Regions from separate parts of the Homo sapiens genome. Here region 1 is linked to region 2. The links come from fine-mapping of genetic effects on gene expression. A gene starts in region 2. The other region holds a variant in brackets. All regions are shown on one strand. Distances are from middle to middle.

The links. PIP is the estimated chance that this variant, and not a neighbour inherited with it, causes the effect.
Region 1: its variant is the best candidate, but not a certain one, in a credible set for the expression of DIDO1 in hypothalamus (GTEx, PIP 0.78).

The regions. Positions count from the first base shown.
Region 1 is chr20:62,873,682-62,879,043 of GRCh38, reverse strand. It overlaps DIDO1 (death inducer-obliterator 1), which reads left to right. Exons shown (of 16, transcript NM_001193369.2): 16 at 1-1,301. LOC105372717 (a long non-coding RNA gene) reads right to left here. Exons shown (of 4, transcript XR_936989.4): 2 at 4,123-4,271; 3 at 3,867-4,002; 4 at 78-2,257. Among named protein-coding and RNA genes, the nearest start is that of SNORA117, 6.5 kb to the left of the region's middle. RefSeq lists enhancers at 2,402-3,055, 3,056-3,710. The variant G/A (reference allele first, on the strand shown) is at 2,445.
Region 2 is chr20:62,924,084-62,929,445 of GRCh38, reverse strand. DIDO1 (death inducer-obliterator 1) reads left to right here and starts at 2,941. Exons shown (of 16, transcript NM_001193369.2): 1 at 2,941-3,007. RefSeq lists silencers at 61-110, 2,754-3,193, 3,264-3,353 and enhancers at 241-330, 1,107-1,955, 2,838-3,451, 3,794-3,843, 3,452-4,065.

The DNA.
Region 1 (5,362 bases), 50 kb after region 2:
CTAAACTTTAATATTTCCATTTAAAATTAAAAGAAATGGGAAATTGCCTACGGAGCATATTGCTTTTCAGATCATAGTTATCTTTTCCAATAACTTTATTGTAAATTTTAAGGGAGTTTCGTTGGACCCTAGAGCCATACCTTCACTGACATCTCATCCGTTTGTGTTTCCAAAAGCTGCTTTTACAGGTCTTAGCCGCCGCCCCGGAGGCCGGTGTGGGCGTGACCTGCAGGCGTCCACCCTGCGGCTACGGGAGAAGTCTTAGTAGCTTGTATCTGGAGTCTTGAGAAACACAAACCTTACAAATGCATCTTTCTTTTGTCATAAAATTGGAATTACAATTTTCAACTGGGAAACAGAAACACATTTCTTAGCGTGCTCAGATTTTATATATCACCTTATCAATTTTTTCCAAAACATGATTTAAAGCAACATCTGTCCTAGTATAATTGTTGCATTTTAAATAACAATTTATTGAAAAATGTTAAGTTTTACCAGCCTAAAAAAAGTAACAAACCAATTAAGTGTACTTTGGGGGCAGGGAGGAGTCCTTGATTTGAATAATCAGGAGTTTTGTTGGTCCAGTTTCGCCTTCTGAGCAGTTCTTCTGTATCCCGGGAAAAGTACGCTCGGCCCCAAACTGGTATTTGTCAGACGATACATGTAAAAGTTTGTCCTTGAACGTGGAACAAGACTTGTGTAAAGTCTGAGACGGGAACTAGTGATCACTAGCTCAAGAACTGCAAATGAGACAGGAAGCTGTTCACTGTGAAACAGTCTCTTGCTTGTCGTGTATTTTTCGAGTACTTCTGAAGTGTGAAGTAAAAAAATCTGGCTAATTTATTTGTACAAATACACTTTGATAATTTTTTATATTTTCATAAACTTTTACAGATGTAAAATTAAAGAACTTCACTTGTTCTTTGGAGTCTGTTATTCCATTGTACGTCACTACAGATTTTTCACTTTATAGCACAGATTTTTTAAGTTAAGAAAACATTGAGAATGTATCAGTTTGAGATGTTTGGTGTTGAAAGCCAAGTGTCCATAGGTTAAATTACATTAAAGTAGGTGTCACGTTCCAACATCTAGTACGATGAGAAGGTTTTGTTTGTTTAACATATAAAGCAAATTTTTCTAATTTAAATACACAAATGTAAAAATCAAGTGTGTTTCTTTAGTTTACTTGATAGAGATTCCTGTACATTGTATTTTATATTGCGGAGGCTTATATCACTGTACATGAGAACATGGAACGACCTAGGTTTTGTTACTCGCAGTAGAATAAACAGCTACAGGAAGTTTCTGTCTCGGGTCTTCATCAGCCTTTTTCTAACGCGGAGAAGTTTGGGGTCGTGCACGGACGCCCTGGCCACCCAGTTTCTTGTTGCTGGTTTGCCTGGGCGTGGGCAGGAGTGCCCTTTGGACCCCTCCCTGAACTCATGCTGAGCCCAGGGTGAGACCGGCCGGGTGCGGGTCCCCACATCCTTCCGTCACGGGGCAGCTGTCTCGCTCCCTGTGGGGACCCAGCACCATCCAGCTCTGGAGACGATGGGCAGGAAGGTCGGGAGGAGGGACTCACCCCCTTCAGACCCTCTCCTGGGGCTGAGTGGGAGCCCGAGACCACTGCAACAGCCTCAACTGCGGTGAAGGAGTCTCATGGTTGGGGAGTGAGCCCCGAGGCCCCAGCCCATCCAGGCTGCAGCAGAGTGTGCACCCGCCGACTGCGGGGCGTGCTGCTGCTGAGGATGCAGGTGGGCAGGTGGGCTTGGCGGCCCAGACCCAGCAGTGCCAGTGGAGGAGACGCGGTGGCCCACGTGCCTGCACACAGCGCGGCTGCAGGGACAGGCTCGGGGAGCTGGCGCCTGGCCTGCGAGCTTCCTCTGGTCGCCTGTGGGCCAGAGCTTGGCTTCCGAACAAGCGTATGGGTCCACAGCCCAGCCATGAGCAGACGCCGGTGGGACGTTCCCGCGCAGACCGGTGCAGGCCCCTTGGCCAAGTGTCTGGTGGGGCAGCAACAGCTCTGAGCAGCCTCCTCCAACAGCTCCAGACCGTGACCTGTGCAGCCAAAGGGCTCACTGTGGAAACATGGCGAGGAAGACCTAGCTCCAGTATGCCCCTGGGGTCGGCCGCGTCCCGGTCAGCCACACCAAGCAGGAAAAGGCCCAGGCCCCGGAGCCCTGGCACCCACAGGCCCACAAGGCACCACAGGGTCACTGAGCTGTAGCTCCCTGTTCTAGCACAGAGGCCGAGGCAGCTGTCGGGGGAAAATGGAAAGAGCCATCTCACTCGAGAACTCGGCACGGGGGCCTCCAACGGGGGGTAACACCCAAAGCAGCCAGCACCCTCCCCACACCAGGCATCAGCGAGTCCCAGGGAGGAGGCGGCAGTGGGGATCGTGGCTGTGGCTGAGCTCAGGGGGCCTAACCAGAAGGGGAGAAAAG[G/A]AAAGACCACATGAGACATGCCCAGACGGACAGTGACCTCAGCCCTCAGTGGCAGGGCAGCGCCAGTGAACAGGCTGAGCCAGGGCGAGACTGGCTGGGTGCAGGTCCCCACATGCTGGGTCCGTCTTCCTGTGGGACACCTAGCAAAAGGGAGAAGAACCAAGCCTGCCCAAAACGTCACACCCAGCAGTCACTGCTGTCGTTAATTTGGTATTTTCCTTAATCTTTTTCTCTCTGCATCTAAATTTTGACAAAATCGGGGTCCCTCCAGGAGCACGCTGTGGCCTGGGGTTTGCTCCTCCTCCTCCGGCTGCTCTGCTGCTCCCAGCCGACCTCACTCCAGGGCTCAGGGGACCATGTGGGGACCCTGCCATTGGCTGAGTATGTCTGTTCCACAGGAGGCCGGGAGGCTCACTGGGCCTCCTCAGAGGAAAACCTGAACCAACTCCGTCGTCCGCCTCCATAAACCACAGCTCTGCCTGGCATCTGGGCCTCCTGAAATGAATGTCCTTTCAGCTCCAGGGTCTAGTAATTCCTAAAAGGCCTGATTATTTCCCATTCCCGTTGCACAGACTCCTGATAAACAGAGGAAGATTCCTTTGGGAAGGGGCGGTGGGAAGATTAGCTGCATGTTTTTGGCATTTAGCAGGGCCCCTTCCTCTCGGAGACTCAGTCTGTCCTTCATTCCAGGGGCCTGGGTCTGTCCAGAGTCTGGAACTTGGCCGAGGGCCCCGGACTCTGTGTTGGGGCTTCCAGTCAGAGCGCAGGACTCCTGCTCTCGGACCTACAGCCTTTCTGCCAGCACAGAACGGGGACGCCTTTGGCAGGATGTCCTTTTTTTTCAGTTCTAGGGAAGCTGCGCCCATCAGGCAACGCAGGAACTATGTGGGTCAGATGACTGCGCCTCTGCTGCCGCTCACGGCTGTGCTGGGAATCACGTCCGGCAGGATAGCTCCCGCCAGCCCAGAGCGCCACCATCCCCACTGCATTGGGAGCCCAGCTGCATGGCAGCAGTTCCCGCCGCAGTTTTTCGCCTACAGAAAAGAATGATCATGGAGCTCTTCCCCGATGTGGGTGTGGGTGCGGTGTGGGTGAGGGTGCCAGTGAGGGTGCGGTGCGAGTGAGGGTGCGGGTGAGGGTGGGGGTGGGGGTGAGGGTGGGGGTGAGGGTGGGGGTGAGGGTGGGGGTGCGGGTGAGGGTGGGGGTGCGGGTGCGAGTGGGGGTGCGGGTGAGGGTGGGGGTGGGGGTGAGGGTGGGGGTGAGGGTGGGGGTGAGGGTGGGGGTGCGGGTGAGGGTGGGGGTGCGGGTGCGGGTGGGGGGGAGGGTGGGGGTGGGGGTGCGGGTGGGGGTGGGGGTGGGGGTGGGGGTGGGGGTGAGGGTGCAGGTGAGGGTGCGGGGCTCCCCGATGAATTCACTCCTCACAATCCTCGTGAAGGGGTGACCTCCAAGCCCTAAGGACATCAAGCTGGTCTTGCACGATAAATCCATCCCAGCGTTCTGCCGTCCTCTCCAGTGTGCCAGGAAAGTTCTGGATTTCACTGAATTTAGGGTCAGCTACCTGTGGGGCGAAAGTTTCGGTGACTGATGAAGAAAATGGGGGTGGGGGGTGGGTCACTCCCAGCCGTTCCCTCCAACGCATCAAATCCAGAATCTCGTATCTGAGTCCCTGTCCACTTACGCAAGCTTATATTCCTCCCACCCAGATCCCGCACTCTCAACATCGATTTCCACACATTTTCCGCAGGTTTTCGTAGGGAAACATATTTGTAGGCCACACCTCACACTTTCTCTTTTGGGGCCTGCTGGAACTCCAGTCTGGATCTAGGTCTAGAAGGAACACAGAGGTGGTGGTGAGTCCCGGGCAGGACGGCGGCACCTTACAGGGCAGCTCCCTAGGGAAGGCACTTGAGGGTCTTTGGGCAAAGGGGTCTCAGCTCCCCAGGCAGTGGCAGAAGAGCCACATGTGCCTTCAAAGACGACCTGCGGAGTTCACCGGCAGATCCCAATGGACTTGCAGGGCTCGTGGTCCTCAGCTTCACTGGGATCTTCCCACATGCCCCTGTAGGGACCAGCCCCACAGGGTCGGTGGGCTTCTCCCTGTGTGTGGTGACGAGAGAGTGTAAAAATAAAGACACAAGACAAAGAGATAAAAGAAAAGACAGCTGGGCCCGGGGAACCACTACCACCAATGCGCAGAGACCGGTAGTGGCTCCGAATGTCTGGCTGCATTGTTATTTATTGGATACAAAGCAAAAGGGGCAGGGTAAGGAGTGTGAGTCATCTCCAGTGATAGGTAAGGTCACGTGGGTCACGTGTCCACTGGACAGGGGGCCCTCCCCTGCCTGGCAGCCAAGGCAGAGACAGAGAGGGAGAGACAGAGACCGCTTACGCCATTATTTCTGCTTATCAGAGACTTTCAGTACTTTCACTAATTTGCTGCTGCTATCTAGAAGGCAGAGCCAGGTGCACAGGATGGAACATGAAGGCGGACTAGGAGCGTGACCACTGAAGCACAGCATCACAGGGAGACGGTTAGGCCTCCGGATAACTGCGGGCGGGCCTGACTGATGTCAGGCCCTCCGCAAGAGGTGGAGGAGTAGAGTCTTCTCTAAACTCCCCCGGGGAAAGGGAGACTCCCTTTCCCCGTCTGCTAAGTAGCGGGTGTTTTTCCGTGACACTGAGGCTACCGCTAGACCACGGTCCGTCTGGCAACGGGCGTCTTCCCAGACGCTGGCGTCACCGCTAGACCAAGGAGCCCTCTGGTGGCCCTGTCCGGGCGTAACAGAAGGTTCACACTCTTGTCTTCTGGTCACTTCTCACCATGTCCCCTCAGCTCCTGTCTCTGTATGGCCTGGTTTTTCCTAGATTATGATTATAGAGCAAGCATTATAAAGAGTAATTGCTACAAACTAATGATG
Region 2 (5,362 bases):
TCCTGCCTCGGCAGAGGTCTGCAAGAATCCTGTGGGTGTCCCCCGGAGCGGGCAGAGGAGGAGCCCAGCGCCGAGGCCCAGGCGCGCCCCGCCCTCGCCCCTCCCCGTGCCCCTCCCCCGCTGCTCCCCTCCCAAAGGCCGAGACCTGGACGCTGCCCGGTGGCCTCGGCGGGGGCCCTGTCCTTGGCCGCTGCCTCTCTGAATCCCAGGTGAGAAGAATAAAACGTCCTGACGCTGTCCGGCTTCCGGTTCTTGGAGAGGACGGGCCGTCTCTGCCGAGAGAACTGTGCGGAATCAGGAAGCGCTGGTGCTCCTTCGCTTTCACGGGACTAAGCGAAATCCGGCTTTAAACGAAGTAAAGCCGGCTGCCTCCTGGAGTATTTTTGTCATAGTATTTTTATTTTGGGTCAGGGTATTCTGCTGCGGACCCTGAGTCTTAGGAAGGAGGCTTATAACAGCGGAAAGCCATTTTTTTTTAAGAATTGCTGAGTTTTCCGGATTGTACTTTCAAAGACTTTCCCTGAAACTTTGCGTGGCATGGGGGTTGCAGAAACTGGTGTCTACACATTACAAAAGTGTACTGTTTACACCTATTTGTGATGCACCCATCGTGTTTTTCTCCATGGACCACCTATTAAGCTTCCTGCTGGAGCGCTCTTGGCCCCCTTCCTGCTTTCTGGGCCACATCCTGTTGTAAATCGGTGCTACTTGTGGGGTTTTGTTTGTGAATTGGGGATATTTAAGGAACAATTTATTGAAACAACTGAAGAGTTTGTTTCCTCCTTTGGGTTTTACTTTTAAAATAAATTCGGTTAGGAAAAAGTATTCTTTTGCTAGTGGAGTTCAAATTCAAATACCCAGACTGTAGATTCTCCAAATGCCTTTCTCACCAGGGAGGGCAGCTCCCAGGAATAGTGACGGCAGGTAAGCTGGGATAAAGCTGACTTCGTCACCTTGTAGGTGGGGAAGGCCAGAGTGGATAGTCTGGCCAGGCCTCCACAGCCGAGCCAGCTTCTGCTGGGGGGCGGGGGAGATGAGAACGAGAGGCAGGTTCCAGTATCCTCTGGACTTGCAGGAAGGAAGGCATTCTGCGTATCGCTGAGCACTGCGGTGAGCTGAGTGAGGGTTCCCTTTCCTCATGTTTTCCTGCCTTTTTCTTCCTCTTGGTTCTCTTGTCCCTGAGCCGCCTTGTCCACTCTTTCTATTCCCTTAGTGCCTTTCCATCTATCTCTCCTGAGTGCCCAGCGTGAAACTGTACCCAAGAGTTAAAATCTCTTAAAAATCTCACCGTCTTGCAGAAACAAATTGTGGCTGGTTTAAAGATCCTCAGCTAAAGAGACTGGGCTGAGGTTCCCCCATACCAGTTGGATTTAGAGAGAGCCTCTTGTAGGGAGGCCTCATGTGGTCTTCACCTGGGCCTCAGCATGTGAGCCCTCCTTTAACAGAGAGCTTGCCCAAGATCTCACTGCTTGTTAAAGGTGGTCTCAACCCCGTCTGTCTTCTAAGCTTCCCACTACCCCATGTCTGAGAGCAAAAAGCCCTCTTTGCAACCTGAGATCACACTCAAGATGGAAGACTGTCAAGCCCATCCCTGCCAGATTCTATTAATGTGGTCCTAATGGGCCACACCAGCAAAAACAAGCTGCGTTGTATTCCTTTGAAGAAAACTAAGTCTGCCTCAGAAACTAGCAGACCCTGTAATCTTCAGCGGTATTATTAAAAAGCACACCTGCCTCAAAGCCCCTGGTTCATCCATGGAAGCATCGCAGAAGCCTCTGTATTAGGGGCAGCTTTACGGCACTCTGGGCCCCTTTTACTCTTGGCCAGGGCCAACGCCAAAGGCTAGATGGTCCATGCTTCCAGGTAGCGTATCACTGTTCACAGAAGCAGAAACAAGTAATGGGGCCACCTCCACCCCCCCCAGGTCCCTGCCCTCGGAGCAAGTGGCCAGTGCCCATGGTGCCTCGAGGCAACAGCTGCCCCTCCTGCCCCCTCCCAGTCTCTTTCCTGCAGTATCTGGGGACAGACAGGTGATAGAGTGTCACTCTAGTTACTATTGAGCGAACTGAAGAAAATCCACATGGAAGGTTGACATCTACCATACCTCACTTTCCCCTCTCTTGATAGTAAGTGTCTAATCTTTCCCTCCAACCCCTGTGGGCAAACATGTCCATGCGTTCTTTGAGTTCTAGCTACTGGTCAGTAGTTCTGAGTGTAGGATTGACATGGTGGGAGGAGGCAGAGCTTTGGGACCACACCGCCAAGGTCCCTGGGGCCTAGAGGTCCAGCGTGCCCGCCTCCCTTCCTCGCTGTGCTCCTTTCTCTCCCCCCCACCCCCACGCTCCTGGTTTCTGGAGCCGAGCTTGGGGTGGGGAGGCAGCAGGTAGGGTCTTCAAGTTGGAGAGAAACCCCGCCCACACCTGGACCTCGCCCCTCGCTGCCATTCCCAGCCGAGGCCGTCAGGGGCCTGCGTTTTGAGAAACACAATCTGGAAGAGAAAACCTGGGCCTTTTCTTCTTTTATCCCCTGTCCCCGCCCCCCTACACCTCTTACAAATTTAGCCCAGGAGCTTTCTATCCCCACCGACTTGAAGGGTTTATCGGTCTTAAGAGCGAAATCCTGGCGGAGTGCAGTCCCTCGGGGCTAGCATCCACGTTCCGCCTGCGCCCTGCCCGGGCTGTTCCGAGGGATCCCCGCAAGGGCACTGCCCCAGCTTTCACTCTTGGAGTCGGGGAAATAAGGTGTCCACAAAGGATGCAAGCAAGTCATTGTCAGTGCAGACCCGAAGGGCGCGTCCGGAGTGCAGGTATGAAAGACGGGCGCATGCGCGCAGTCCGGGGCCGGGCTTCGCAGCCCGGGCTCCGCTCTAGCCCCGCAGCGTCTCGGTGGCCGGTCTCGTCCTCCGCCCGCCGCGCGGGGGCGCCGCTCTAGCCCCGCGCCATCTCGGTGGCCGTCCGCCCACTCCGCGGCGTTCGGGGAAATGGCTGCGAGACCCTAGAGGCCTGCGGCCTGCGGTAAGTGGCGTCCCGGGCGCCGGGTAGAAGAGCCGGCCGCCGCTTGGGCCGCCCTCGGGAGCGGGGCGGGGCCGGCATCGGAGCCCGGCTGGCGAGAGCCGCGGATCCCGCACAGGCCGCTCCCGCCGAGAAGATGGCGGCCGCGGAAGGGAAGGAGCGGGCGGGCGGGCGGGCGAGCGGGCGGGGCCGGTCAGAGCCGCCGCGGCCTGGGGCGCGGGCCTCAGACGCCGGCCCTGGTGGGCTGCGTGAGGTCGAGGGGACTGGCGAGCACTCGGTGGTCGCGGCTGGAACGGTTCCGAGGGTGGGAGTCGGGGCGGCCGCTCGCGGGGAAGAGCGCAGGGCTGGCCTGGGCGAGTGCGGCCCGGGGCTCGGGGGCTGCGTAGCTGGCTTGTAAGCGCAGCTGGTTTCCCTAGGCATTCTCGGGGACCTCGGCGCTTCCTCCCGGGCCTTGGGTGCGGTCGGGGTGGCCGGCTTAGCTTCTGGCGTGCCTTCGGGGGATTCCGGCACTGCAGGGGCGGCTGGCGCTGCAGGAAGCGCGAAGAGCCCGGATTCGCTTTTCTGAAGAGTGTGTCCTTACCTCCCCGCGCTGGTTTTCAGTTTTTTTGTGGAATAGTTTGTTGCGTTGGTTTGTACTGGCCGTATTTGTGACACATTTTGCCTTCCAGTGACCCCGGAAGCCGAAAGGGCCCGCTCTTGCGCTCGGCGGGAGGGGTGCTCGTGCTGCCTCCGCTGCGGCGTCCGGGGCTCCTTCTCGCGGTTCTGAGACAGTGGAGGTCAAGGCCGGCTTTTCTGCTCTAAATAAAGGACTTTAATATATAAGTTTAGAGTTTGGGCCACAGGTAGCAGTAGCTTACTGCGTTACCAGTTATTGAAAATACTCTTTAACTTGTGCCTGGGCCTTCGATATCCGTGTCATCTGTCTGCTGATGGAATGAGATTTGAGCCTAGTGTACTCAGGGACTTAGAGGAGGGAAAGGCAGATGGGAACGTCTTTTCGGTATATTCACATAACTTTGCTATATACCCCGTGTTCCATGGTTTCCGTAGGGCCACATATGACTTGGTTGAAATACAGTTCTGAGAAAGGTCCTTAGCAGTGCCTTTTAAGGAGTAAATACAGTCTTTTTTTAAATGAGCATTCATTGCTTACTGTTAGCACGAGGGATACAGCAGTGACCAAGGTGGCCCCTGTCCCAGTCCTGGAGACAAGTTCACTGGGGAACTTGAGAGATTATTCCAGCTCCTTCCTTTAAATCAGGTGTTGCCAACTCGTTTACCTGGAGCCTAGGGCTCTTTAGTGGCCCTTTGGGTTGCTGTTAGTGTATGTGTGTCTGTGACTATTTCACTATTTTAAATACGGCATAGACATCTCAGAAGTGTCACCCAGGAAGACAGACACAGCCCTGTTGTGAAACTCCCTGCTTAATGCACACTTGTTTTCCTACTTGCTGTGTACATGGGGAGGAGATGTCTGTTCTTGTAGACTTGTTTCAGCAAGTTTCATAAGATACCTCTTGTTTTGGAAAAGCGCGTATCTTGAATTTTTTCAGGCTTTCCACCAGAGGCTGTCCCTTATTAGTAGTTGATTGAATTCAGACTATGTCAAGCAGAGCTCATTGTGCTGTGGTGAGAAGACAGGGCACAAATAAGATAATTTGTGATTGACTGCCCAGCCGTACCCATGGTTACCAGACAGCCCAGCCCATGTTGCATGTGCATATGTGAGCCTCGCAAAGGCTTGTCTAGGACGTGCGGATCATCGGTTGGGCCTTGGAGGGTGCTGGGGTTTCTTCATGTAAGGAGGAAATGATTGGAATGGGCATTGGCTCCCGTTTTGTTCGCGGTGAAGTTGGCAGGTTCTGCTGTTGATACTGTGAGTTTTTCTACAGCCTTAGGGTCATAATTCCCTTAAGGTCAGTTCTGTGGAGCCCAGTAGGGTGCTTCTCTTCAGTGTTTATTTTTAAGCTGTGCCACGTCTTCATTGTTTGGAATCTCTGTAAACAAGACACGTTTTTCCTTTTTATATGCCTGTCCCATAATACCAAGTGGCTTATTTGGCTCTTGAAGAGCTAAGATTGAAAGTGTTTAACAGGTGACTCCCTACTATCTGTGGGTCCCTGCACTGTGCCCTTGCCTGAGAGGTCTCATCTCTCTGGCAGGCTCAGAAGACCACTAGAAAATTCTCTCTAAACAGAGTCTCTCACTTACATTTCTTATTTAAATGACGGGGTCCCTTACAGTGGATACTAAGATCAGCCTTTTTATGACTACTATCAAATGATGTGTGTTAATTGCATTACAAAAGTTCTATAATTAACAGTTAATGGAAATGTACTAATTGGGAAAGA